Regions from separate parts of the Homo sapiens genome. Here regions 2, 3, 4, 5, 6 and 7 are each linked to region 1. The links come from fine-mapping of genetic effects on gene expression. A gene starts in region 1. Each other region holds a variant in brackets. All regions are shown on one strand. Distances are from middle to middle.

Region 1 (4,000 bases):
CCAGATACAGGCGAGAGCACAGAGGAATCACACCAGCACAATGCTGGGAAAAAAAAAAAAAAGGCCAGAGTACATACTGTATGATCCAGTTGTATATCAGGTTCTAGCGGCAAAACTAACTTTCAGTAATGGATCAAGTTTGCTCCCTTGGTGGTCAGGGGGCAGTGTTATTGGCTGAGAAAGAAGATGAATCGACCATCTAGGGTACTGGAAATCTACATCTTGATCTGGGTGGTTGTTACATAGATGTACTCATACATAAAGTTTTGTTGAACTTAATAAGTGCACATTTAAACATATACATACATTTAAAAATTTATTTTTTTAATGGCAAAGCCTGTTGATGCTTAAATTGTAACTGATGTTTGCCTAAAAGTGAGGACAGTTCACTGGGAGCTGAGGGAGAGGAGCCTACTCAGTGAACTCCTACCCAACCTCCAGGACCCATCTCAAATTGTCCCTATTCTGTAAAGCCTTCTCCCACCGTTCTGGTTGTAACCTAATGTTCATATTGCGGGGCATCTCTTCACAACAATCAATCTTCTCTAAACCAGGAGCTAATCCTAGAGGAATGCAGGAACTTGTTGCACGAAGCATTGGTTAGTATGTGCTTATTAAACACTCAATGGTTGCCTAAGACAGACAGGTACACACACTCACACCCTCACAGTCCAGCAGAAGACACTAATGCCCACCCCCAAACAGGATGTCAGTTCTTCTCAGGCAACAGGATCCAGGCACTTGGCTTATTATCAAAAGAGATCACTTTCAACATCCCAGCCCAAGCCTCCTCCTTTAACACAAATCACAGCCAGAAGAGATCAGAGCGGCCCAGAGCAAACTCAGTTTCCAGTGTCCACCCCAGGAGGCTCCCCAGTCCTTTTGAGGTCACCTCTGCCGGCACTGTCCTTGCCCAACCTAGGGGTGGGGCAGACCCTGGGCTCCCAGGAAACATTCAATCAGGTGTAATGTTTAAACTTGACTGCTCGGCCATCCCCCAGCGCTGGGGCTCCCTACCCTATAACAGTAAAGTCGCTGCCCTGGCTGGGGGAGGGCACCCACAGCCCCATCGCCTCTCTGCCCAGGCCTCCCAGCTCGCTCCTAGCCACTCCTAACCTTGAACCCTCTAGAAACCCAAGCCAGCAGGGGAAGCAGCTACAGAAACTTCACCTGCACAGGTCAATGTGGGTGAAGAAGGGCCGGAAGTGGTGTTCTGTCTAGTTCTGCAAAGCCCATATATGAAAAAAAAGAAGCTGGAGATACAGTTCCATGAAGAACACCTGTCTGTTGGGTGGATAGGTTGTGGAGGGGAAATTATGGGTGACTTTTTTCCTTCAAATATTTTTGTGCTTTCTAAGTTTCCACATTGAATAAATTCTTTTGAAAGAGAAACACACTTCATGTGTGGCACCGCCATACCCAGCCGCTCTCCACCACTGGAGTTTCTCTTTCACCTCTTCTCAGCTACCTCCCAGGTAGAAGCCTTGGTCCCAGTGTCCTGTGCCCAGGCAGGGTCGGAGTTGGGGGCCAGCGTGGGGGAAGGGTGGGGCTCTCGCCCTCTCCCCAGTTAGAGTCCTGATCCTGCAGGGGAGGGGCAGCTCCCTAAGCAAAGTGGCCGCTGGAGTTGGGTGCTTGCCTGACCCCACCGATCCGATCCGCACCCCTGGCCCCGCTTTCCCCAACTCACCCCCTGAAGCGCCGCCCACCATTCAATTCCCCTTGCCTCGAAGGTACTTAGGAAGTGCGCGAACTCACACACACACACACACACACACACACACACACACACAGAGTCGCACTGTCTCCTCCCCTCCCTAACCTGGGCCACCGCCCCCAAGAGCCCACGTACAAACTTCTCCAAACTCGCAGCGGTGACTGGAGGGGGTGGTGACGTCCCCCTAATGAAAATGCGAGCCCTCGCCCCACAACACACACACGTGTGGCGCCCCACCCCCTGGGCAACTGTAAACCTGGCCGCGGCTGGCCGCCCTGGGGCTTGGGGGCGGGTATCCAACCCCAGCCTCCCACCTCGAGGCAAGTGACAGGAACAACGAGCGGCCGGCGAGCGGGGGCGGCGCGGGGGAGTTGCCAAGTGTCGGAGCGGCGCCCCGGGCCCCCCGAGCGCCCAGCCATCCCGGGGCGAGCCTGGGCTGCGTTACCTTGCAGGTTCTGCACTCGGATGTCGCTAATCTGCCCGATGAGCTCCTCGCGTTGGAACCAGTCCCACTCGTGTGCAGCCATGAAGCGCGGGCGGGAGAGCCCGGGCCAGCGCGGCGCGGGCGGCGGGCGCGGAGAGCCTGGCTGGCGGGCGCGCGAGCGGCACGCACCCGGCGAGGGCGCCGCGGAGCTGGAGTCGCGGCGGGCGCGGGCGGGGCGCGGGCGCGGGCGGGGCGGGGCGGGGCGGGGAGGGGCGGGCGGCGCGGTCGGGGCCGCCCCCGCCGCGGGCTGGCGCGAGCGAGCGCGGGGCGGCGGGTGCGGGGCGGCGGGCTCGCTCTCACTCCCCCGTGCGGGGGCGGGGGCCCTGAGGAGCGAGGGGCGAGGGGCGAGGGGCGGGGCGGGGCGGGGCAGGGGCGGGAGGCTGGGTCAGGCCAGCTTGTGTTTTTTTTCTTTCCGGGGTGTTTGTAGGTTGGATTGTTTGGTTACAAACCGGCTGTGATGAGGCGCGGGTCCCGGCCCCCAGATTGTGATGTCTCAGGGGGCGGTGGGCCGGGTGACGCAACTGGGGGTGGGCCCGTGGGTCCCAGTACCTGGTCCAGGAGGCAGCGTCTCCCTCCCGTCCGGGATAAGACACCCCCTCCGCGGGTCCCCTGTCCACTCTGGAGAGGCAGCCCCCACTTGGAGGGACCAGGACCCGAGCCCTGCCCATCCCCGAATCCTGGGAGCCCTGCGTGGGGAGTGTCGAGGGCCTGGGTCGGGGGGCAAACTAGTGTGGAGGTAAAGTTGTGGGAGTCTCCAAAGTGCGGGGGGGCTGTGAAAGAAGGGCCTTCTTCGTTGGTTTAGATACTAGGAGCCTTTTCCGGTCCAGTAATGTGACTCCAGCTTCTAGGAAGGAACAAGAAGCAGGCCAACTCCTAGGAGCTGGGGTACGCTGTGGGGTCTCTGGCCACTGAGTCTCCAAGTGACCCTCTGTGGGGTCACTGGAAATTAGTGAAAATGCCAGGACAGAACTTCCTGTGGAGACTACTGAAAATGCCAGGACAGGCCTTCCGGTCCCCTCCCTCCCCACCTCCACTGTTGAACTCTAGAGAATTCCAGGATCTTATCCTGTTTGGTGCCCACCATGTGGTTTACACTCCTTAAAAGTGAGACCCTACAGTTACCGAATTTGCCCAAGGTTGAGGAATGACTTAGGAGCAGGAAGTCCCAGCCCCCTGCTCCCAGCTCAGTGCTTGGGCCCTTTCTGTGACAACTAAGGCCACAAAGAAAATGGCTTTAAATATTCAGTGTTCCAAGAGGGGGAAAAAAATGGACAGGGCTCACTGGGCATTTAAACACATGGGCCTGTGTGCATCGCTGCTCTGTTCACAGCAATGAATCCCGGAAACCCGGCTGCTCACTAATTACCCAGTAACTATGGAGGTCCCCCGAAGGACAGACCTGTGCCCTTGAGGCAGGGCCCTGAAGGAGGGTGAGTCTACCCTCCAGTCATCCATTGGGGCAGGGGCTATCGTGTGGCCCTTAAACAAGGAAAGGAGATTTCTAAAGTGGACTCCAGAAAGGAGAAAGTCAATTTGGGTTAAGGAACTGTGAATGCGGGTGGAGGGCAGCAGAGGTCTCTAAAGACTGACCTTGGAGCTGAGCCCAGAAGGAGGAGAGGAACCCCCACAGGGACAGCAGTTTGGGCGGGGAAAGGTGGGATCAGTGGAGACAGAAGTGGAGGCCCCATTAGGGGCTCCTTGGTGCTTGGGCTTGAGGCAGGAGCTTCCTTGCTGCTGCCTTGATTCTTAATCTTGTGGTCATTTCACACTCCAAGGAGCAGGATCTCTTTCTGCGTCCTGTG
Region 2 (4,000 bases), 130 kb before region 1:
ATACTGATCGCTTGCTGCTGTTTGTTAGTAACGCAGGGGACCCCATAGGTCATCTAAGGGATGAAGTGTCCCTAATAGCAGATCATTTTAAATCATCTATCAGAAAGAAACAAAGACCTCTCCCATTCCCCACAGTTTTGTTTTGGCTTTGGAATATTACCTTTAAAATAATTACTAGATTTGATTTCAGTCAGATTTACCTTCCTGCTTTTATTTTATAGGTGGTAGTGTTAAAATGTCATTTCAGTTTTGCCTGGCGGATCATAGGGAAGCCCAGAAGGTTTTGCCTGGGGCTGGGGCCTCTGCTTGGAGCTGCATGTAGAGAAGCCTGCAGTGTAAGCCTCTTAGGGTGGTTTCGTGCGGTGTAATGGAGATTACGAGAGGCTAAAACCACTTGTCCCAGAACTATCTCCTGATAGCAGGAGCGAGGGGCAGGGTGGGATTAAACATCTGCCACAGTCTACATACTGAATGATAAATACCCACATGATGGTCTTCTTTAAAAAGCTGTCCACAGAAACAAGTTAAACTATATACTTTTTATAGAGACACGGTCTCTCTGTGTTGCCCAGGCTAGTCTCAAACTCCTGGCCTCAAGCAGTCCTCCCTCCTTGGCCTCCCAAAGTGCTGGGATTACAGGCGTGAGCCACCATGCGCAGCCTAAACCATATTTTTTATTATAAAGGTAATAAATGCTCAATGTAGACAACTGAAAACACGACTGCATTTCTCAACTTTACAGGTTCTATTTTCAACGCCTCTATCTCATAAGAGCAAAAAGGATTATTTTCCTATGAGCATATCCAGCCTGGTGGAAAACTTGAATTAGTATTTCCATTTCATGGCAGGGGAAAGGAGCTGTCTTGCTTCTTTTTTAGCAGCCAGAGGGATGGGGTTCTAATGACCACACTCTTGGGTGTTGGGTAATATTCAGACAGAGGCTTCCGATTCCAGTAATCTAAATCCTTCCAAGCCAATTCAAATCTGTGGCGAGTAAATAAAATTTTTTAAAAATAAAAACATAATAAAGCAACTCTATGACTTCAACAGGAATGGGGACGTCTCAGAATTGTAAGAATTTGAGACGTTTTTCTGGTTTCCTATGTTTTAAATGGGCAGGTTTCCAGCAATTCAGCAACATTAGGCCAGGCCAACAGTTCTCCGACAGCAAGAAATACTTTCATAGACATCCTGGCATGTTTGCTTTCCCTCTTCATGTCTGCTCTGATGCCATAAAACTGTAAAATCAGCTCAGTAAGCTTCTGAGTACTGTACCTGCAGTGGCAACAGAGAATGGACAGGCGTCAGGGGCTACAGCATTCACAGGGGCCACACAGCCTCACAAGACCACCACCTCTTCTCCTGCCTGGCCGTCCCTTTGCTAACTACCCTATACCACTAAACCACCCTATACTCTATACCACTCATTTAAACACAGCTGCAGGCTCAGAACCCAGACCCGTCTTTAAACTGACTCATTTTCGGAACCGGGCCCTAACCATCAGTGTTAATTAATATCTACTTTTCCTTTCTACTCATATTCAATTTACATCATTTTCTCTGGAATAGTTATTTTCTTGCATTATCCCAAATTATTAATACTGTTATCAACAAAGCAGTGGGAGAATAACCACCCCTGTAAGGCAGGCTGCAGAATGTAAAAACATTTTATTACTACCCCCACAAAACCTGAAGTAAAGCCACCAACCTGGTTAATATTCGGTTTCTTCTGTCATCCAGATCTGCTGCGTTCCTCAACTGAACATAGCTAAAATGATCCTACAGTGAAATTTATAAACAAAAGCCCCCGCAACCCAATTAGTAAAGATGAAATCTCTGAAACAGAAGATAAAACGATTTTAAACACACAAAGCCGAGCATGCCGGGCATTTCTCAATACCGCCAGCGTCTAGATCCAAAATCAAAGTGCTAAACAATATACATTCCTCTACCTCCTCCCCTAAGCCCCTCCCTTGTGAGTGCGAGAGACCCCACCACCCGGAACCCGGATTGGGGTGTGCTGCTCCGGGTTCTAACACATCTGCTACTGAGCACGTGCCACTGTCCATCGGACCTTGACTCATGTTGCACCTCTGTCTCTGAACGTGATCCTTCTGGGTGCGCGCGGGGTCCAGGTGAGGCGTTTTGGGTGCGTTTTTATAGCAAGGAGGCCTTTGGGCTTTAAAATCCTCACTTTATTTACATC[T/C]CTTATTGCCCAAACCGGATATCCGATCGGACTGTGCTTAATGATAAGGTTCCAATCTGCTTGTCTTCTATCCAAAAGTATAGCTGTTGCATGCCAGTAATTTCAAAGCTCTGGGCTGGGGAGGAGGAAGGATGGAAAGGAATTGATTAGCAGGGGCCGTGCGGAAAGAGAAGAAATTCACATACTAACCGATTCCGAAGACCTATGAGTATGTCGTCGAAGGTAAATGCTGGAGTCACTGTGACTAGTCCTGAAAAACAAACACATGTTTTGAATTGGTACCACCTGGAGCTCTTCATGGCTCAGTTGTACGGTCACCCCCATCCTGGGGTTTCCACGTATGGGTTTAGGCAAGCGACAACTTCACAGCCAGGGACAGAAATGACAGATTTTATATCTAACATGCCTACTTTGGTTGGACAGTGCTTACAAATAGGATGGATATTAGTGATACACACATTGGGCCCTCATCTACAAGAAAAATCAAAGTCAGGATTTTAAATAGAAAGCAAGGCACATATTCTTAAAAATCAAAGCATTTGGAGCAGGAAGTAACCCAAGCATCCTGATGTGCTGGGACTCACCAGAGGTTCTCTGCAATTAGTCAGACCTGGGCCTAGACCAGGCTGCCCTGACTCTCTCTACCTGCGTCTGAGGTCCAAAATGTACAAGTGGGAATGCTTGCCTCGCACTTTTCACATTCCACCCAGTCCTAGCGGAATGGAGGGTAACGTCCTATTTCCTTGAAGGATGGAGCCCCGCCTGAATCACCCCTGTGGCTGACCTCTTTCTCCCTCTCCTGAAGTCCCCAGGCCTAGCAGACTCCATTGCATAGTGGCTGCTCAAGGACTCTTTGAGAATTAATCTGCTTAGGGAGAAGCTGAGCAGTTGGGCAAATCCCCTGCACTGTTTGTCCAAAGTGCTCACCTGCACTGACAGCAGAGCCCAGCGACATGAGAAGATCATAGATGACTGCTAGACAGTCACACCCAGGGGCAGGGACAGGCACGCTGGGAGTCAAAGGCCAAGTGGGCAGCAGCCTTCTGTTGTGCCTTGGCCCTCCTCCCCCTGCCTCTGTTTCCCCAAAGTCCAGGCACAGAAGCAAGGCAGAGGGAGGTGGAAAGCCAGGCACCTGCCAGCAACTCCTCTGGCTCTGTCTGTATGGGCTTCTCCCTACCCCTCCCCAAATGCATACCTCAATAGTTTTCTGTTGCAGCTTGTATTACATCATCACAGGCAACAAGGGGGCACAAAAAGAATGTGGAATGTGGAGTGGGACACATCTGAGTCCAAGACTCCCTAAGCTGGGGAAGTTACCTGGCCCCCTGACCTTCTTTGTCTGCCATATGAGGCACAGTCCCACCAATGTGTCTATAGGTGACGTGAGAATGAATGAGAAAATGAATGTGAAGTTCCTGGGCACAGTAAGGGCTTGATCAACACTGACTGACTATTGTGACGATGAGAGAGGGGAGAGACCAGGGTCTTCTGATTTTCAGCAGTTACACATTTTCCCTGGGACAAATCTGGCTCATCTGGTGGCCTTGGAGTGACAGAGCAGAGGTGTGCTATGAGATTCCTGTAGATCAGTTAAATCTCATTATCCTCCCTGCTCCCTCCTTCTCCCAAGCTAAATCAAGCATCCCTACTTCCTTGGAATGGGAATTGTGGAAGAAGCCATAATATTAATGAGATGTCCAGCTTCCACGTGCCAGACATTAATGGTCTCCTTGGTGGAAAGGTGGATATGCTTGAAGTCATTAAGATGCTTATAAAGTGAAGTCTGGTCAACCT
Region 3 (4,117 bases), 58 kb before region 1:
CTTCTTCACTCAGGACTCTTCAGCATTAAAATGCATGGCCAGCTGCACCTGCGTTTCCTCTCCCCACACCCACCTGGACGGCTATTCCCTTGCGCTTGGTGGCTCCTGAATATGCCTGCTTGCCTGGGGCTCCAGGCCTTTGCACACGCTGTTCCTGCTGTCTGGCACTCTCTCCCTGCACTTCTCCACCTGCTCGTCAAATTCCTCTGGCTGCCCTCCCTAAGATAGGGGTGGCACTTCCTTTCCACTCCCTGCTATTGCAGCACCCACGACTCTGCATCCTCCTGTGGGCATCTGGCACATGGCAGGTGTTCAGTAAGCATATCATTCATTCATTCATTCTGTCCTGCATATTGGTTCACTAGAAGAATGGATCAAAAAGCCAGGCGCAGTGGCTCACGCCTGTAATCCCAGCACTTTGGGAGGCCGAGGCAGGCAGATCACGAGGTCAGGAGATCGAGACCATCCTGGCTAACACGGTGAAACCCCATCTCTACTAAAAATACAAAAAAATTAGCTGGGCGAGGTGGCGGGCGCCTGTAGTCGCAGCTACTCGGGAGGCTGAGGCAGGAGAATGGTGTGAACCCAGAAAGCGGAGCTTTCAGTGAGCCGAGATGGCGCCACTGCACTCCAGCCTGGGCAACAGAGCCAGACTCTGTCTAAAAAAAAAAAAAAGAATGGATCCAACAAACAAATTACTGAATAAAATGTTTGTTGAAAGAATCAAGCACTTACAATATTGCCTGCTATGAGTGGAGACGTTATCTTAGACACATCCTTAGTCTTCAGGGAGCTTGTGATTTTGACACACAATAACAGAAGGCTTGTGGGAAGTGTGACTAATATCTTACAGTCCATGTCAAATGTGAAATCAATGGTAAACACAATACATATTGTGGGGTGAGTTGGTGTGGGTGGGAAACGATCCTTGGAGGCTGGTGTGACCATGGGAGGCTTCCTGGTGGAAGTGTCTTTGACTCAGGTATTGAGTGACTACACAACCCAGTTTATCTCCATTGTCCAAATGAAATACAGTTGATTCTCATCATTCACAGTATGATATTCTATGAAGTTGTGGTCAACCCTGACTTGTGAATACTGAATCATTGTTTTTGTGGAAATACAGTATTAGGTTCCTGCAAACCTCTGGTTACAAATTTTTTCCAACCAACCAATACATACCCTTGACTCTTGTTTCATGTGTGTTTCTGTCTAAGGAGACTTTATTGAATATGCATTGATGACTCACTAACACTGAACTCATGGCCAACAGCGCTGTAACTCATCCCTGAACGAAGCTTACTGAACACATGTATTTTCTCCGCAAGGAACGTCAGAGCCTTTCTGCACTTCCGGACTCTGACTGGGGGCTGTTTTAAACGGCAAGATCACCGAGAGAAAGCACACAAATGCAAAAAAAAAAAAAAAAGTGGCACTAAGTAAGCTGTGGAAAGGACACTTATTTATAGTTTGAGAGCTGAAGCAGAAGGCCGAGGCCCATTGCCTCGTTTCACCTCCGCTGGGAACGTGCGCGTCTGGCTGCTCAGACTTTATGCCGCTTTGCGCACCTCCGTGAAAGACGAGCACTGATTGTGGAGACACAAATACATTTCAGAGAGTGGGTGAATTCCCGGATTCTGTCTTTGTAAACTGGTCTACTCTCTAAAATGGATTTGTAGCTACAAATGTCATGTTACTGCCATGGTTTTTGCATTTTTGTAGTTTCTCCTGGGCATCTTGCTATCTAAAACGGCCCTCAGGTATAGTGCTGAAGTGCAGAAAGGCTGCAATATTCCCTGCAGAGAAAATACACTTATCAGGGAATGGAATGGAATGAGCAGTCACTCTCAGCAGTGAGAGTCACCAGTTTTAGAGGACCTGTGCCTCTGC[A/G]TTGCGACCTGGAGACCACACAACTGCTGTCGGGAAGGATGGCTCTTCCAAGCCTGGCCTTCCCAAGATGCCCACAGGTCCACCCGCTCCTCTCATCTGCCCATTGGGCAGTTATGCCCCAGATGACATGGGGATCCCCACAGCCCATGCCCCCCTGCAGCAAGAACCTGGAAGTCATCACTGGCTTCTGCGTCCCTGGCCTCTATGAGTATCCATCAGCCTCACTCAGAGGGAATGAGTCCTGACAACCTGCGAGCAGCTTTGTCCCCCAGATGCCTGTCCTGGAAATTTTTCCTCCAAGCGGCAGCTTGGCTCTGGGCTCAGGAGGGCCCGCATCAAAGGCCTGGCTGTGCCTGGCTGACAGGCGCTGGGGCTGGGCCAGCGTCCACGCCTGTATTCCCAAATGCTCCCAAACATCCTGGCAAATCAATCTGAACTCTCCACGTGTCTCCCCACATCGTTTGGACAGCCAGCAACCCGATGTCATCACCTGTTCAAAAGCATTAAAGCTATTCTCAGAGCTGGGCTCCAGGGGACTCTCACTGAGCTGATGTTTTCTCAGAGCCCTGTACCTGCGCTGGGGTTCACTGAGTTTTTGGCCTGGCTACTGAAAACCACTCTGCCAGCTGTTCTGTTCAACAGAAGAACAACAAAATAAATACATTCCCAGTGACCAGAGGACAACTCAGCAAGCAGCGACCTGAAAAATAATCTAGAACAAGCAAAGAGTCAACCAAAAGATATCCACGTGACATTTATGAAATGCCTAATAAAAATAGCTACCACTTCTGCAGCACTTGTTATGTGTCAGGCAGGCACTGTGCTTAGGGCTTTAGAGACAGTATCGTATCCAATCTTGGTAAGTTCAAGGTAGGGCCTACTCTTTTTCCCATTTCATTTATTTATTTATTTTTGAGACAGGATCTTACTCTATTGTCCAGGCTGGAGTATAGTGGTGTGATCATGGCTCACTGCAGCCTCATCCTCTCCAGGCTCAAGTGATCCTTCCACCTCAGCCTTCCGAGTAGCTGGGACTACAGGTATGTGCCACCATGCCCGGCTAATTTTTGTATTTTTTCTAGAAACAGGGTCTCCCTATGTTGCCCAGTCTGGTCTCAAACTCCTGGATTCAAGCAATCCTCCTGCCTTGACCTCCAAAGTACTGGGGTTTCAGGCATGAGCTACTGTGCCCAGCCTCCCCATTTTCTGGATGAGAAAGTTGGCCTCAGAGAGTCAAGTCATGTGTCCAAGGCCACGCAGCTTGTTCTTCTGGGAGGTAGGAGCAAAACTAGGCCATGGTCTCAGAGCACAGCTCTTAACCACCCTGCAGTGACAGTGGCTCCCAGGCTCAGCCTGTGCCACCCAAACCAACTGCCCAGCGCATATGTGGCTCCCTGTATTAGTCTGTTCTCATGCTGCTAATAAAGACATACCCGAGACTGGCTAATTTATAAAGGAAATAAGTTTAATTGACTCACAGTTCAGTATGGCGGAGGAGGCCTCAGGAAACTTACAATCATGGTGGAAGGTGAAGGAGAAGCAAATACGTCCTCTTCACGTGGCAGCAGCAAGGAGAAGTGCCAAACAAAGGGGAAAAGACCCCTTATAAAACCATCAGATCTCATGATAACTCTCTCACTATCAGGAGAACAGCATGGGGGTAACTGCTCCCATGATTCAATTACCTCCCGCCAGGTTGGTCCCATGGCACGTGGGGATTATGGGAACTACAATTCAAGATGAGATCTGGGTGGGGACACAGCCAAACCCTATTACCCACTGGGGTCTGGCACCTACAAGCCTGAAAGATCCAGACACTGATGAGGGAATGAAGTAGCCACATCCACCTAGCAAAAGGGTTCCGGTGTGACCCAGGAAAAGGAGCGGGAGGCATCTGCCCACTTCACCTCAATGCAGGAGTTTGGCAATGGAGCCCTAAACGTTACTTGGAATATGAATTCACAGGTAGCATAACTGGATGTTCCAGCTGGAAGGGCATGAGACAGGCTTTGCAGAGCCTAGAGCAGCCAAAGAGATGAGGTGGGGGTGGCTGGGAGAAGAAAGGAAACCTCGGATACATTTTGTAAGTTGTGCCTCAATTTTCTGGAAAATGGGGATAATGGCAGTGCCCACCTTGGGGGGTTGTTGTGAGGATTAAATGAGTTAGTGCCTGTGAAGAACTCACACAAGTGACTGGCACAGCAAATGCCCAGTGAGTGTCGGTTAT
Region 4 (4,117 bases), 34 kb after region 1:
ACTAATTACTGAGATGCTCTTCCTTATTTTTTTCAATATTATTTTCTCAGTTCAGATCATTACATCGTGTGTTTTTTTCAAGGTCATGCTCATTTCTTCCGCCACTTCTGATCTGCTTTAAGCCCATTCAATAGATTTTACAGATTTATTGATGTATAATTGCCATACAATAAATCACACATATTTAAAATGTAAACCTGGAGGAGTTTTGACATAGGTTTATGACTATACAAAGGGCACCATCCCCAAAAGCTTCCTTGGGCTACTTTGAAAGCCATTCCTCTCTCTCTGCTTTCTGATTGGTTTGCATTTTCTGGAATTTCATGCATCTTTTCTTTTTCTGGCTCTTCCTCCCAGCATGATAGCTACGCACTTCATCCATGTTGTTGCGGGGTGCCACAGGCATCCCTGCTTGACTACGTGCCTGTTTTTATTGTTATATAGATGCACCACCGTTTGTTGATCTGCTCATCTGCTGATGGGCCCCTGGGCTTTTTCTCGTTTTTAGCTATTAAAAATAAAACTGTTATAAGCATTCATGTAATGATCCTTGTGTGGAAATATGCTGGCATTTCTTTCTTTCTTTCTTTCTTTCCTTCTTTTTTTATTTTTTGAGACACAGTCTCACCTTCACCCAGGCTGGAGGGCAGTGGCGGGATTTTGGCTCAGTGTAACCTCTGCCTTCTGGGTTCAAGCGACTCTCCTGTCTCACTCTCCCAAGTAGCTGGGACTACAGGTGCCACCACCACGCCCAGCTAGTTTTCATATTTTTAGTAGACACAGGGTTTCACCATGTTGGCCAGGCTAGTCTTGAACTCCTGACCTCAAGTGATCTGCCCGCCTCAGCCTCCCAAAGTGTCGGGAATACAGGCATGAGCCACCATGCCCAGCCGTGCTTGCATTTCTTTTGTGTAAATATGTAGGGATGGAATGGCTGAATCATATGTAGGTATGTATTTAGCTTTTATAAAAACCACCAAACTGTGCTTCCAACGTGGCTGTTCCATTTTACATGCCCACCAGCAGTGCTGGACACCCTACATTGCTCTCCATCCTTAGAAATACTTGGTATGGTCTGTCTGTTTAAAATAGTGAAGAGCTTTAGAAGTGATAAATACCGTATGTTGGTAAATATAAAATATATTATTTCTTTTAGAAAATCCCTTTAACGGCTTGGCAATGTTGTCCATGCCTGTAATCCCAGTGCTTTGGGAGGCTGAGGCAGGAGGATTGCTTCAGGCCAGGAGTTTGAGACCAGCCTGGGCAACATAGCAAGACCTTGTCTCTACAAAAATAAACACAAATAAAAAAAGTTAGCCAGGTGTGGTGGTGCACACCTCTAGTTCTAGATATTTGGGAGGCTGAAGTGGGAAGATGGCCTGGGTGACAGATCAAGACCCTCTCTGTAAAATAAATAAATAAATAAATAAATAAATAAATAAATCCTTTAAAAGGTAATTATTAAAAGTAAAACTACTATCAACTAACATATTGTAAGGTGGAGTTTATAACATACATAGAAGTAAAAATATATGACAAATTAGAACAATGGCCAGGAGAGGAGAAATGGAAGTATACTGTTATAAAGTTTTCATATAGCACATGTCGTGTTATAATATCACTTGAAGGTAGATTGTAATAAGGGAAAAATGTGTACTATAACCCTAAAGCAACCACTAAAAGAAAACAGAGAGGGGTAGCCAAGAAGCCCACAAGAGATAAAATAGGATCATAAAAGAATTCTCAGCCGGACACAGTGGCTTACACCTGTAATCCCAGCACTTTGGGAGGCTGAGATGAGAGGGTCACCTGAGGTTAGGGGTTCAAGACCAGCCTGGCCAACATGGTGAAACCCCATCTCTACCAAAAATACAAAAATTAGCTGGGCGTGGTGGCAGGCACCTGTAGTCCTGGCTACTTGGGACGCTGAGGCAGGAGAATCACTTGGACCCAGGAGGTGGAGGTTGCAGCGAAGCTGAGATCACACCGCTATACTCCAGCCCGGGCAACAAGAGCGAAACTCCATTAAAAAAAAAAAAAAAGCTCAACCTAAAAGACGGCAGAAAAAGAGGAAAAGGAAACAACAGATGGCACGCTATCAACCAGCGTGACTTAG[C/T]TGATATTTATAAAACACTTCACCCAAGGACAACAGAATACACACTCCTCTCCAACGCACATGGAATATGTACCAAAGTAGGCCATATTCTGGGCTACAGAACAAGTCTTGATAAATGTAAATGAACCCCCACTTTACAAAATTTGCTCTGTGCTCACAAATTAGACATCAATACCCAAAAGACATCTGGAAAATGACATAATATTAGAAACAAAATAATATACATCTAAGTAATGCATGGGCCAAAGCAAAAATCAAAAGTTGCCCATATCAAAACATCTCATGTACCCCATAAATATATACACCTACTATGTACCCACAAAATTTAAAAATTGGGGTGGGGGGAGAGGGGAGCGATAGCATTAGGAGATATACCTAATGTAAATGACAAGTTAATGGGTGTAGCACACCAACATGGCACATATATACATATGTAACAAACCTGCACATTGTGCACATGTACCCTAGAACTTAAAGTATAATAAAAAAAATTAAAAAAAGAAGAAATCAAAAGTAACTCAAAGTGAATGAAAATAAAAACTGACATTATCAGTACTTGCAAGATGCAGCTAAAGTGGTGCTCAGAGGAAAATTCATAGCATGAATTGCCATTAAAAAAGAGGAAAGGGCCAGGCTTGGTGGCTCATGCCTGTAATCCCAGCAATTTGGGAGGCCAAGGTGGGCAGATCACGAGGTCAGGAGATTGAGACCATTCTGGCTAACACAGTGAAACCCTGTCTCCACTAAAAATACAAAAAAATTAGCCAGGTGTGGTGGCGGGCACCTGTAGTCCCAGCTACTTGGGAGACTGAGGCAGGAGAATGGTGTGAACCTGGGAGGCAGAGCTTGCGGTGAGCCGAGATGGCACCACTGCACTCCAGCCTGGGTGAGAGAGACAGACTCCGTCTCAAAAAAAAAAAAAAAGAGGAAAGGTCACGAAGCAATGACCTAGGCTTTTACCTTAGGAAACAAGAAAAGAGAGAGCAAATCAAGTCCAAAGTAAAAAGAAGAAAGGAAATAATAAAGTAAAATTAGGTATCAGTGACATTGAAAAGCCAAGAGGAGACAGAAACACAAAGTCAAATACTGCATGTTCTCACTTATAAGTGGGTGCTAAATGATGGGTACACAGGGGCATGCAGAGTGGAATAGTAGACATTGGAGATTATGAAACATGGGAGGGTGGGGATGGGGGTGAGGGATAGAAAATTCCCTATTGGATACAATGTTCACTCTTCAGATGATGTGTATAGGAAAAGCCCAGACTTTACCACTATGCAATATATGCATGGAAGAAACCTGCACTTGTACCCCCCAAAAATATACAAATAAAAAATTAAAAAGGAGAGAATGAAACAAAAGCTTTTTCTTTGAGAAAATCATAAAATTATATGCTTTCTTTTTTTCCCAAGAGTTGTATTCCCACCAGTTCTGAATTGCATTCCAGTGCCTTCAAATGGTTTTTTAAAAATTTGCTATTCAGAGATTTTAATGGTTACAATCAGGAGGCTTGGTCAGATTCAAGCCACCCCACCATTTACTGTACCTGGAACCCTGGCTTCCATAGCTACTTGTCACACTGTATGCTTCCTTCTGTAGCCTTCTCTCCTACTTATTTGATGTTTCCCATTGTCTGTGAGCCAGGAGATCGAATAATCATACTTGTGAGAATTGTATAACAGCCAGAATCAGTGGCTCTGGCAGACTCTCTGGTGAATGAGGTCTGTGCGTTTCCATTCAAACACCTCTTTTGTTTACTTCCCAGGAGATGGTATGATGTAATGAAATGGAGATGGGCCACAGAGTCTGACTTGACCGAGGTTCAAATCCTAGGTTTGCCACTTAGGAGTATCATGACCTTGGGCAATGTACCTCACCTCTGTGGACTCAGTTTCCTTACCTGTGAAATGAGGTTGCATTGAATCTCCAGACTGCTGTAGGGCCTAAAGGACATAATATATTGAAAGTTCCTAACATCACCCCTGGCACCCCCTGGTGCTC
Region 5 (4,117 bases), 52 kb after region 1:
GGCGGCAAATCACCTGAGGTCAGGAGTTCGAGACCAGCCTAGCCAACATGGCAAAACCCTGTCTCTACTAAAAATAAAAAAATTAGCTGGGCATGGTGGCATGCATCTGTAATCCCAGCTACTGGGGAGGCTGAGGCAGGAGAATGGCTTGAACCCAGGAGGTGGAGGTTTCAGTGAGCCAAGATCGCTCCATTGCACTCCAGCCTGGGCAACAGAGTGAGACTCTGTTTCAAACAAACAAGCAAACAAACCAGGAAAACAAAAACCAAATTAAATGAAGGAGCTGGGATCGAGGTCTGTAAACAGAGCAGGATCAGGGTAACCCTTTGAGTTCCGCCTGATCAGATTCAGATTTGAGAGTAGTGTCACCACGGCTGAGGAGGCTTCCCAAGGTGACATGGACTGAGGGATCATGTCTCACTTCTGCGTTCTCAACTAGCAGGACTCACTCTTCCATGGCCTGAGGGCTGCAGAATGGAGGGGAAACAGAGTCCTGCCCTGGCTTGGGAGTTGGAGACCTGAGTTCCTGCCCTGCCTTGCTATGAGCCCCACTCTGTGTGGGACCCAGTGTCCTCACGAATGGAGTCTGTCTTGCGCAGGAGCAGGCAGGCGGCCCACGTATAATAAACAGCTGATCCTCAGATCATAGAGGGTAAAGGGTAGGGGTGAAAATGGAGGGTGCGTGCCCTGCCTGTAAGCACTAAATTCAAACATTTAAAGATGACCGTGCGCTGCTGACCAGGCAGACTTGGCGAGCAGGGTGCCAGTTTGAGATCCCTCAGCTAGAGGATTTCTAGGGCCCAGTCTGGTTTGACAGCCCCTCTTCCTACCCACCATACCTGTGCCTTACCCATCTCCTGAACTCCTGTCCTTCACATCCTTACCCAGGAAAAGGCTAAGGAATGGCCTGGGAAATGTTTATTACATCAAGTGGGGCATGTAGTGATACCATTGAATAAGTTATCCTTGAAAGATGTTTAGTGTTTGGGAGTTTGCAAGCTCAGACCATTTTTGAAGGGGAAAAAAAAAGTCTTTGTGTTGAATGTTCAGTTCCTCTGGCGTCCGGAAGGTTCAAACCAGTTCTTTCCATCCCCTTCAAACAGATTTCTGTCTCTGTGGGATGCCCCAAATGAAGGAACTGGCTTACCTTTCAGAGTCACAGGGTAGAAAAATATGTATGACTTTAAGCCCTAGAGAAGCCTGGATAGCCAGTGCTCCCCTTGGGGCGGTGTCTGGGGCTGAGATGGTGGAGGGAGCGCAGAGGCAAGTCTCCCAACCTCAACTCTGAGTGGAACAGCAGGAGCTATTACCACACCATTTACATGTGTTATGCCTCTGTCTGTGCAAGCTCCTGTAGATGAATTTGCAAGTTAAATGCATTTAGGTTACAACCATACCATACAAGGCACCTAATTTTCTTCTTACAAAGAATGACTAATCACCTGTTAGGAGAACTTTTGAGGACTATTATAGTATCATTTTATATATGTGTGTGTAAGGAGGCAAAGTATATGAGTGTGTATATATATTTGTCTCTTTATTAAAGACCACTTCTGTGATCTCAAATGTCATTGTCACTCTGAATTTAGACATTCATGCACACATAGGGTTGCTAGAGAAATACAAGACACCCACTTACGTTTGAATTTCAGATAAACAACGAGCACTTTTTAGCATAAGTACGTCCCAGGCAATATTTGGGAATACTCACATTCAAAAAGTATTTGCTTTTTGCCTACATTCAAATTTAACTGGACATCCTGTATTTTTATTTGATAAATCTGAGAATGCTACAGACACACAAATACACACATTTGTGGATATGCCTCCACAACACCCCCGATACAGAGACACAAATAGTGCACACGTATGCATAACTTGGCTGTCCTTTGCCATGGATTCAGACACACACACACACACACACACACACACACACACACTTCCTCCTCTATCATGAGCACAGCTGTGTCCCCAAGGTGCCCTCCGAGTTGAGTTTACAACCGCAGGGTCTGTTGCTGCTTCCTGAGGCGGGTT[C/T]CTCCCGGGTTTCTTTAAGAACCTGCAGTTCTGGGCAGCCATTACTCTTTCCTGAAGTTCCCATGGATTTAACAGCTTTGGACCTGGTTTGGAGCAGGGCCCCGGCTGCAGGCTTCCCTCCCGTCCAGGCTGCCCTGCCTGCCTCTCCCTGAAGGCGTCTCGGTTACTTGCGGGCCTGGCCGGGCTGGCTGGTGGGCTTTCTTGGGAGCAGGCCTCTTCCCTCCGGCTCCCCAGCTGCTCGTATCCGGGTTTACAGCCCCGGGGCAGTGCCTACAGGGCCTGCAGGCTGGATGTTCTGAGATTTTTATTGGCATCTCCATCAAGATGAGGGCCATGGGGGTCCTTCAGGTCTTCCGGAGCCGCTTTATTGGGGCTGGCCTTCCAGACACGGCGGGGAGCAGCGATTTCCAGGGGAATCTGGTTTCTCTGCTGGGCTCGCACCCGTTTCCTCTGTGTTTGGCTTGGCAGCGCCTGGGCCTGGCCTGTTTTGAGCCTCACCTCGTGCTTGGGCTTTTGTGGCCTGTCGGTGGATGAGGTGGCGCGGAGTAGCCGTTTCTCCTCAGCCGCAGGGACACAAACGGAGCTTTGTATGGGGCAGACGCAGGTGGAAGGGAAGGAGCTCAGGCCTCTCCTGTGCTCGGGGAAATGCTCTGGAGTTGGAGGACGTTAAAACACAAGTGCAAACCACTCCAGATCGTCTGCACCTTGAAAGCCCAAGCTCACTCGTGGGAGGACTGAATGGCCGGGTCTCAATGACTGCCGCCTTCTTTGGGACCCGGAATAGGAAAGAGGTGCAGGGAATAATATTCTGCGAGGGGATTTAAATTTTAAAACCCCAGTGGGGGTTAAGCTCACAGTGAGCTCTGGGCAGCAGATGGCCAGAGTGACCTTGGCGTTTGAGGCGGGGAAGGCAATGCCTGGGGAGAGAGTGCCTGTCCCGGGGGGTCCCCTGCTGTCCACAGGTCAGCCCATGTGGGCCACCAAACCAAATGACTAGCCAGCCGGCTTGTAATAAAAGATTCAGGATTGGCCCGGCGCATTGGCTCACACCTGTAATCCCAGCACTTTGGGAGGCCGAGGCGGGTGGATCACGAGGTCAGGAGTTTGAGACCAGCCTGACCAAGATGGTGAAGCCCCATCTCTACTGAAAATACAAAAATTAGCCTGGCACTGTGGTGGGCACCTGTAATCCCAGCTACTCGGGAGGCTGAGGCAGGAGAATTGCTTGAACCTGGGAGGCAGAAGTTGCAGTGAGCCAAGATCGCACCACTGCGCTTTAGCCTGGGGGATGGAGGAAGACTCTGTCTCAAAAAAAAAAAAAAAAAAAGATTCAGGATTAGTGTTTGACCTGAATTATGTCCCCCTCCAAATTCATATGATGAAGTCCTTGTGAATGTAGGTACTTCAGAATATGACTGTCCCCACCTCCCTGCAACCTCTGCCTCCCAAGTTCAAGATATTCTCCTGCCTCAGCCTCCCAAGTAGCTGGGACTACGGTGTGCGCCACCATGCCCAGCTAATTTTTGTATTTTTAGTAGAGATGGGTTTTTGCCATGTTGGCCAGGCTGGTCTCGAACACCTAACCTCAGGTGATCCACCTGCCTTGGCCTCCCAAAATGCTGGGATTATAGGCATGAGCTGCTGTGTCCAGTCTGGACATAGGGTCTTTAAAAAGATAATTAAACTAAAATGAGGTCAAACTGGTGGGCTCTAATCCAATGGGACTGATGCCCTCGTAAAAGAGGAAATGTGGACACAGATACACGCAGAGAAGTCCATGTGAGGACACAGGGAGAAGACAGACGTCTGCAAGCCAAGGAGAGAGGCCTCAACAGAAACCAGCCCAGCTGACACCTTGATCTCAGACTTCCAGCCTCCAGAACAGTGAGGAAGTCAGTTTCTGTTGTTTACACCCCCCAGTCTGTGGTACTTTGTTGCCGAGGCCCAAGCAAACAAATATGGTAGCCACAAGAAGGAAATGATCAGGGCGGGTCTTAATTTTGTTTTTTATACTCGGCCGATTGGAGAAGGTGGCCGCACACTTGTAGTAGAGTGTGATCACAGAGACACCAGTGCGTCCAGC
Region 6 (4,000 bases), 130 kb before region 1:
AGATTTGAGACAGGGTAGCTCAGAAAAAAGTAATGGATTGGAGAGAGGTTGGAAGAAGCTATGGTACACTAAGGGTTAGGGAAAGAGGTATAGTCAACGCTTGCTTCAAGAGGAAGGAAATAGAGAAAAGGGGGCTGCTGGGCATCCTACAACTTCATAAACTTTCAAGAAAAGTATTTTTCATCCAACAAATATGTGCTGAATGCCTATAATGCACAGAAGCTCAGAAGTTAGTTTGCCAAGATCACCCAGAGATCTGGTGACAGAGCTGGGACTCCAATCTAAATCTGGCTGACTCCCAAACCTGACTTCTTTCTCTAGCCCACAATACCTCCCAGAGAAGAAGGCAGTGATTAAAATGAAAACAAAAAAAAGGGTTCCTTTAAAGAGAACACTGCTAGATGAAGCTATTCTTGACATCTGAGTGTCAGGGATTTAAACAAATTAGCAGTGCGATTGAGGCCGTGGATTGTTGAGGCATGTGTATATTTAAAAACAACTTGGTCAAACAGTACAAAATACTGGTTGTCTTTTTCCCATAGACAAGAATGTTTTTTGGCATGTTGCTCCAGCCCTGGCTGGGAGGAACTGCTTGCTTGATGTGTTCTCATCAAGGTTCTCAGAACAAGTTCTAAACACAAAGAAGCCAGTATTCCCAGCATTGTGGGGTCTGGCAACTGCAGAACACTCAGCTCAGAAACTCTGATAACTTTTGTGGGCTCTTGGGGAACCAGCAGCTCTGAGTCTCCAGGCTTTTGACCCACACCTGACCAAGCTCACCCCATGCCCTGTCTCACACACAATGGTAGAGAAGTGACAAGACCTGAAGGTCCTGTAGGACTCTTAAGAAAAATCAGAGTGAAGGCCAGGCACAGTGGTTCATGCCTATAATCCCAGCATTTTGGTAGGCCAAGGCAGGAGGATCACTTGAGGCCAGGAGTTCGAGACCAGCCTGAGCAACAGTGAGACCTGTATCTATAAAAGATAAAAAAATTAGGTGGGCGTGGTGGCATGCACCTGTACTACCAGCTACTTGGGAGGCTGAGGCAGGAGGATTGCCTGAGCCCAGGAGTTTCAGGCTGCAGTGAGCTGTGATCACACCACTGTACTCCAGCCTCGGTGACAGAGTAAGATGCTGTCTCTTAAAAAAAAAATCAGAGTGAAGAGGGCAGGTGCTCACGTGGAGCCCAAAGATACAGGTGTCTGCACACGATGGAAATGGAACCTGTGCAAAGTCCATGCAAAGTCTGTGCACCGGGCTCACTTCCATGAGCTGCTGACTGCTGTTTTCCAAGGAAATGCCTGATGAGAGCAAGGCGCAAGATCTGTGGAGCTCAAGGGGATGCTTGTGTCTCATGTTTGGTTCTCCCACGCTGGCTGTTAGGGGAAAAGAGCCATAGCAATTTTCAGCACAGAAGCACAATAATGCCCACTCCAGCTCCCAGCCTTCCACCACCCAACCCAGGTCCTGGACCTTGTCATTAGGGCAGCCCCCTCATCAGTTGGATGGGACAGAACAACCTGCTATGTGGTGATGGTTCCAGATGGCAGCTGCTGGCCCAAGACGTTAAATCTTCCCCAAATGCTGTGTCAGCAGTGATTATGCAATGTCGGGGAAGGAGAAATAACACAGCTGGGCCTCACAGGGCTTTGTGCAGTCTCATTTCCTGGCTGAGAAGGTCCCGAGATACCAGGCTGACTGGAAGCTCCCACACAGCCCATTTCTGGGACCTGAGGGCGCAAGGCTCCACAGAGGAATACCGGCGGGGAATGCAGTGGAGACCCCCAGGAAGGTGTCTCCAAGCAGAAGGGAGAGAGAGGCCG[T/C]GTCTCAAAACTCCAGAGGCTTCTGAAGTCCTTCTGGAGAGTTAAGAAAATCGGAGCTCATGTGAAAGCATTCTTGTCATACAACTGCCTTCCAATGGCATGACCACGGAAGGAGAACAGCTCCTCACCAAAGCAGCCATGATGGATTCTGACATTTTCGTAAGACACATCTGTACTTGCTAATTCTGACTTTTGTTGGAGAGATGAGCTCCATGGTGTTCTGAGTCCCTAGCGATGGTGGGTAGGGAGGTTAGCTTCAGCAGCTGAGGCTGTGGTTTTGTAGTAAACTTAACTGGGAATGAAGATGGCTATCTGGAGGTCATCAACTAGCAGGGCGACTAGTCGTTTCCTCTTTCTAATCTTCAGTTTTTCATCTCTTAAATGAGGCACTGAACGCTTACATAATTCCTGAGGTTTTCGAACAGTCTGTGACTTACAGAGATCAACAACACAGGCTGCCCCCAGTGCCTCTGCCTTCCCTCTGTTCCATCCTGATAAAGAGCAGGCATGCACTGCATGGGAAGAGGGTGGGGGGAACTATGCTGAACCTCAGAAATGGAGACGCCCATGTTCTGGGTGGCTGCCCGAGGGGCAGCAAGAGTGTCCTGCTTCTGAGCCTTGGTGGGAGAACATCTCCCCACAAAGGTCAGGTCTGACCAGGAAGCCCCGACCACCTGATCATCAACTATGGCAAGATACAAACTTCGACGAGGCAATGTTGGCCACGTTCAACAGAGAATCCGCGCTGTTTGTTTGCTGGCAAACACCTGTGTGGACTACTTGTTTCTTTATTTTTGAGACAGCGTCTCGCTCTGTCACTCAGGTGGAGTAAAATAGCAGGATCATAGCTCACAGTAACCTCAAAGTCATGGGCTCAAACAATTCTCCTGCCTCATCCTCCTGAGTAGCTGGGACTATAAGTGTATGCCACCACTAATTTAAATTTAACTTTTTGTAGAGATGGAGTCTTGCTATGTTGTGCAGGCTGGTCTTGAATTCCTGGCCTCAAGCGATCCTCCTGCCTTGGCCTCCCAAAGGGCTGGGATTATAGGTGTGAGCCACTACTGTGCCTAGCCAGTTTTCTGTTTCTTAAGTGAAGCAAGGGTGGTAAAGAAAACCTAGAACCCAGACCACCACATAGACTATATCTTTGGGGAGGCAGGAGATCTAAGATCATTTACTGACAATAGGCAGCAAAACCAGGGGGAAGGAAGGAAGGTAATAACTAATCATGGCATTCAAGCAGAGCTTAGCCATGCTATGTATCCCTCTCCTGCACTTGGCACAGCATTACACAAAATCACTTAGCAGACCACAGCTCAACAGGATGGATGTTGCTGCAGTCCCAGCTGGACTCAGGGCACGTTCACAAACCAGTCAGAGCAGCAAGCCCCCTAAGCAACCTGTGAGATAACTCAAATGGGGTTTATGGATCAAGATGGTATACTGAACACATGAGCCTGTTTCTTCCCTCATGAAACCCCATGAAAATAGGAGCAGAGGAATGAAAGTTATATTAATACAACCATGAACACAGAATACAGAAGAGAACAGTAAGCAAGAGCTAGCAACCTATTTATGCAGGAATGGAACTGATGGAAAAGTGAGCAGGGAGGGGGATCCTAAAACCACATGCCTGCAGAGGGGAGGCCACAGAGTGGTCAGCAGAGATGCCCTGTGGCCTCCAGGAGAGGCTTGGGGATTGGAATAGGAGGGATGGGGTGAGACATGGGGCTGAAGACCAGGGCATTTATTGGCTCTGAGGTCCCCTGTCCTTCCCATGCAGCCAGATGACCACTGTGCTCCTACTCCATGGAGAAATCAGAGCAGCTCCAACTCAGGGACACCAGGCACAGCAAAGGTTGAAGCAACTTAATGAAAGTCTAAATACTCACGGGTGATGAGGCTGCCTGCTCAGCGGTCAGGACTCGGGCACACTGAGTATAGACCAGGGTCTCTGGATATGGTCCTACAGTTGTGCATTGCACAGAGGCACTTGGCTAAAGAGGGCAATTAGGAGTTAAAATCTAGCCTTTTCATTGTTCCTCGAGCATTGTCCAAGCTCAGAGCTGGGTATGTCTGGAGGAAGGGGCAAAAGGTGTCCTTTGCCAGTCAAGCCAAGTGCTCATGGGGACTTCTGCCCAGATGGGACACCATTTTTGAAACCACATGAGTA
Region 7 (4,117 bases), 28 kb before region 1:
TCCTTTTGCTCAGGGGCCAGCTTGTCACCTCCCCCACCAGGGGGTTGGCCTCCTTGTGTGTAATCGCCACCTAAGACAGGTTTAAAGACATGCAAGAATCAAACACAATAGCTGAAGCCTATAACATTTCAAGGCAAAGTGTCCATTCTTTGGGGGATGTCTTTTGGGAATTCTATCTTCAAAATAATATAACCTTTAAAAAAGAAAAGCTCCTTAATCCTCACATGAAAGACAAATTGCCTCCAATCCAAGGCTGTTTCTCGTTGACACCTGCAGAGCCCTTCACAGTGTGCAAAGCCACTCAGGTGCAATGGGTCCTAGTGCTAAACCCTTACCATGATGCCCTGGGTCCGCCCCGCCCACTCTTCTTTCTTGGGTGGTGGTGCTTTGTGACTCTGTCACACTTTGACGCTCCCCCAAAGATGTCCAGATCCCAATCCCTGGAGTCTGTGTGTTGCCTTTATGTGGCAAAAACAGACTTTGCAGATGTGTTAAGGATCTTGAGATGGAGAAGTTTTCCCGTAGTCTCAGGGAGGGCCTTAAATGTAATCACAAGGGTCTTTATAAGAGGAAGACAGAGGGAGATGTGATCCAGAAGACAGAAGAGAAGAGACAGTTGATGGAAACAGAGTCAGAGAGAGTTGAGACGCTGCTGGCTTTGAAGATGGAGGAACAGGCCACAAGCCAACAAATATGAGGGCCCTCTAGAAACTAAAACAGGCAAGGCAACAGATTCTCTCCTGGGGCCTTCAGAAGGAACGCAGTATTACCAGTGCCTTGAATTTAGCCCAGTGAGACTGCCTCAGGTTTCTGACCTCCAGAACTGTGAGATGCCACATCTGCATTGCTTGTAAGTGCTCACTTTGTGTAAGTTTGTTACAGCAGCCCTAGGAAACCCACGGACCTCCTTATGGTGCTTTCAGCTCCCGAGCGTCAGAACAGCTTCTCAGTATTCCTATCCCCACCCTAGTGCTGTGGTATGCAGTAGGTGCTCAATGAATGCTGGTTCTATGAAGGGTGGTAGCCTAGGGATACCGACGCAGAATAACTAATAATACCAAGGACATGGAGCTCCTGTGCTTGCAGCAGAGATGACACAAACACGTGCTTGCCAGGAACGCAGCTGCTGATGCTGCTATGATTATTAATATCCTTCTAGGCACCTGCTGGGCTCCGAGCTGACCACGCTCTTCTGTCAAATTCTTAATTTCTTCCTCTCCCAAAGGGCAAGAACAATTTAAAAAGAAACCACCTTGGAAAAAGCTTTAGCTGGCCAGAGTGGAACCCGGGCTGTGACAGCGTCCCTGGTTACTGATGACAACATTCACCCACCCAGCTGAGCCTGGGCGTGAGCCTTCCTGTCTGCCTGGGGCTTGGCTCGCCATCCAGGAAACCACCTGTTGCAGGCGCCTGTGAAATGGGAGCCAGGCAGCCTAGCCATGGCGATGGCCTGTAAACAGATTTATCCCGCCCACATGGAGCCGCATCCCTGCAGCTCCTGCGTCTCGGGGCTGGCTAATACCTGGGACCGCATGCTGCCTGTGCCAAAAAAACCCAGACACACATCCTCCTGGAAATATCATTGGCCACAGGAGCTGTTTCTCATCCCCAGAGCTCCAGGTTGCAGGTGCGGCTGGGGATTATCACTTCTGCAAATAAACACCAAGCCCAGGTGAAAGCTCCAGGAGAGACGGAGTCAGACTGGCCCCAGCAAACCTC[G/A]CTGGGGAATGGGGAGCCCTGTCCTCCTCCTTAAAAGTGAGCTGAGCGTACGTTATTCAGAGCCCCATAGATAAATTCCCATAGCCTGTGACCCAATATTTCCACATCTAGGTATCTGTCCTCTAAGATCACCAGAAATGGGGACAAGAATGAACGTGCAAGGAGGTTCAGCAGGAGGTACCAAAAAGCATGCAAAGCTGGAGAAGCCGTGGATGGCCAACAGCAGTTAAGTCAGCCACAGAAAGAATGCGCATGCAGCCCCAAAAATGCTGGTTACCCAACATTTAAAACATGGGAAAATTCTGAGGTCAGAACACAAAGTGAAAAAAAATAGGATCCAAAATTATATACATGGTGGACTGAAATTGCTAATGGCAATGACAAGCATTTATTGAGAACTGACTGTGTTCCTGGCACTGTGCCAAGGGTTGACGTGTTCCCACGTCCTCATCTGGCCTCACTGCAAGCCCGAGAGGAAGGTCTGACTTTTGGGCCTATTTCACAGATAGGGGGACTGAGGCATGGAGAGAATTCAGCGGCTCACTCCACACAACTACACGTCCTTAACACCCTCTACACCATTTATGTTAAAACTCGACACATTCACAGGGAAAAAGCCCAAAAAGAAAATGCATCAAAAGGTAAATGGTAGTCATTTCTGGGTGGCATCATTTGGAACATTTTGTATTTTTCCATATTTTATACAGTGGACATGTACTACTTTTAAAACCAGAAACTATGCTATTTTTAAAAGTCTCCAGAGATTTCATAAGCTCCCCTAGGATGGTTTAAAATAACAACACAAACAAACACCAGTAATGAGATCTGCCCCCCAAGGGTCCCCCACCCCCACCCCCACCCCCACCTCCACCCCCTGCATCTTGGGTCACAGGCTCCATGGCCCTCCAGGAGGTGTAAGTAAAAGCCTTACTGTCTCCCTTATTGATTTTTGTCCTTCCTCTAAGAAATGTCCTTGAATTTAAATAACTTCAGGTCAAAAGCCTAAGCAAGCTCTGCCCTGCACACTCACGGGGACCGACGGTACCCTCTGACTTCACCTGCTCTGCAGATTCCCAGGCTGGTGGTAGGGGAGGGTGGGGACCATTATGCTTGTGCCCCCACTAAAAACACCAGCTTTCCCACGAGCTAGGATTTGCTGGGAGCTGGAGAGAAATCAGCATAGCCTGATTAAATTAACATGAACCAGCTCAGGGAGGGCGAGATGAAGCTCCAAAAGCGCAGGCCTGTGAGAGCACGGGTGCCCGGTGTGGGTCTGCTCCTCCAGGGACATGGCTAATTGCACCCCAGCACATCCAACCGGCCACAAACATGATCATCCAGGGGTAACCACGGAGCAGGAGAAAGAAGTGGGTAAGTGACACAGAGCAGAATGCAATTTTGCACATAGCCGTCCATGGCCATGAGAACCACTAGGAATGTATTTGGGAGATGGTTAGAAATAAAAAAATTAAAATGACAATAACTATGTCAGGGTAAATGAGATGGAAAATCCCTGCCCTCCCCTCCCTTCCCTCCTTCCCTCCCTCCTTCCCTCCCTTCTTCCCTCCTTCCCTCTCTCCTTCCTTCCCTCCCTCCCTCCTTCTTTCCCCCCCTTCCTTCCCTCCCTCCTTCCTTCTTTTCCTCCCTCCCTCCTTCCTTCCCTCCCTCCTTCCCTCCCTCCCTCCTTCTTTTCCTCCCTCCCTCCTTCCTTCCCTCCCTCCTTCCCTCCCTCCCTCCTTCCTTCCTTCCCTCCCTCCCTCCTTCTTTTCCTCCCTCCCTCCTTCCTTCCCTCCCTCCTTCCTTCCCTCCCTCCTTCCTTCCTTCCTTCTCTCAATACCTCCTTCCTCCCTTCCTCCCTATTTTCAAGTTTTCTCTGACTTGTTTTTAAATCAAATCAAATAACCATACATATCTTGAGGCCTCCCTAGGCAGTCTGTCAGCCTCTGATCTTCACTGTCATTCTCTATGGATTCAAGACCAGGAGAATGGGCTCTGTGCACCTGCTCCCAGCAGGCAGGAACGAGCTGCACAGACCCCAGCACTGGATAAGAAGGGCAGAGACATGTGGGTGTACTGCGCCCCCTGTCTCCCACCCACCCCCGCCCCGCAGCCCTCTCTGGCTTGTGAAATGGAAAAATAAATCTGAGGCAACAACACATCCCCTGGCTGAGCTGTCCTGTGAGGCTGAGAATGGGGTCCAGGCTCCTTCCTTTCCCAAGGGTCTCGGGACCATCACACAAACCTGCAGTCTCTAGAAACCAAGTCTGGTGTTGTTCTACGTGGTACGGAATGAGGCAACATGAAGTAGAAAACAAGGAAAAACTCCCTCCCACTCCCTCCTCAGTCTCTCACTTAGCGTTTTAGCTAAAACTTACCAAACGCCAGCAGGGAAGGTGCC

Direction of the effects. Alleles are on the strand shown, and positions count from the first base shown. SD is a standard deviation of normalised expression in the study named. Not every link is listed here.
With allele C in place of T in region 6, the expression in whole blood of the gene that starts at base 2,357 in region 1 is higher (small effect, 0.24 SD a copy in GTEx).

What was found.
Region 2: its variant is fine-mapped to the expression of CLMN in whole blood (TOPMed, PIP above 0.99).
Region 3: its variant is fine-mapped to the expression of CLMN in whole blood (TOPMed, PIP above 0.99).
Region 4: its variant is fine-mapped to the expression of CLMN in whole blood (TOPMed, PIP above 0.99). The same link has a PIP of 0.9 or more in T cells, blood mononuclear cells, monocytes, monocytes after LPS and monocytes after Pam3CSK4.
Region 5: its variant is fine-mapped to the expression of CLMN in whole blood (INTERVAL, PIP above 0.99).
Region 6: its variant is fine-mapped to the expression of CLMN in whole blood (GTEx, PIP above 0.99).
Region 7: its variant is fine-mapped to the expression of CLMN in nasal epithelium (TOPMed, PIP above 0.99).

Annotation. Positions count from the first base shown.
Region 1 is chr14:95,317,552-95,321,551 of GRCh38, forward strand. It overlaps CLMN (calmin), which reads right to left and starts at 2,357. Exons shown (of 13, transcript NM_024734.4): 1 at 2,160-2,357. The coding sequence starts at 2,241. RefSeq lists enhancers at 1,228-1,347, 1,368-1,447 and a silencer at 2,078-2,337.
Region 2 is chr14:95,192,141-95,196,140 of GRCh38, forward strand. It overlaps CLMN (calmin), which reads right to left. Exons shown (of 13, transcript NM_024734.4): 11 at 2,396-2,456; 12 at 1,709-1,779. Among named protein-coding and RNA genes, the nearest start is that of DICER1-AS1, 36 kb to the left of the region's middle. The variant T/C (reference allele first, on the strand shown) is at 2,207.
Region 3 is chr14:95,259,780-95,263,896 of GRCh38, forward strand. The region is part of intron 1 of CLMN (calmin); the gene reads right to left. Among named protein-coding and RNA genes, the nearest start is that of CLMN, 58 kb to the right of the region's middle. RefSeq lists enhancers at 1-310, 1,512-2,138. The variant A/G (reference allele first, on the strand shown) is at 1,891.
Region 4 is chr14:95,351,776-95,355,892 of GRCh38, forward strand. The region is part of intron 2 of LOC107984710 (a long non-coding RNA gene); the gene reads left to right. Among named protein-coding and RNA genes, the nearest start is that of LINC02292, 24 kb to the left of the region's middle. The variant C/T (reference allele first, on the strand shown) is at 2,117.
Region 5 is chr14:95,368,994-95,373,110 of GRCh38, forward strand. LOC107984710 (a long non-coding RNA gene) reads left to right here. Exons shown (of 3, transcript XR_001750863.1): 3 at 1-8. Among named protein-coding and RNA genes, the nearest start is that of LINC02292, 41 kb to the left of the region's middle. RefSeq lists enhancers at 131-632, 633-1,132, 1,084-4,117, 2,389-2,941. The variant C/T (reference allele first, on the strand shown) is at 2,035.
Region 6 is chr14:95,183,964-95,187,963 of GRCh38, forward strand. It overlaps CLMN (calmin), which reads right to left. Exons shown (of 13, transcript NM_024734.4): 13 at 1-4,000. Among named protein-coding and RNA genes, the nearest start is that of DICER1-AS1, 28 kb to the left of the region's middle. The variant T/C (reference allele first, on the strand shown) is at 1,825.
Region 7 is chr14:95,289,870-95,293,986 of GRCh38, forward strand. The region is part of intron 1 of CLMN (calmin); the gene reads right to left. Among named protein-coding and RNA genes, the nearest start is that of CLMN, 28 kb to the right of the region's middle. The variant G/A (reference allele first, on the strand shown) is at 1,720.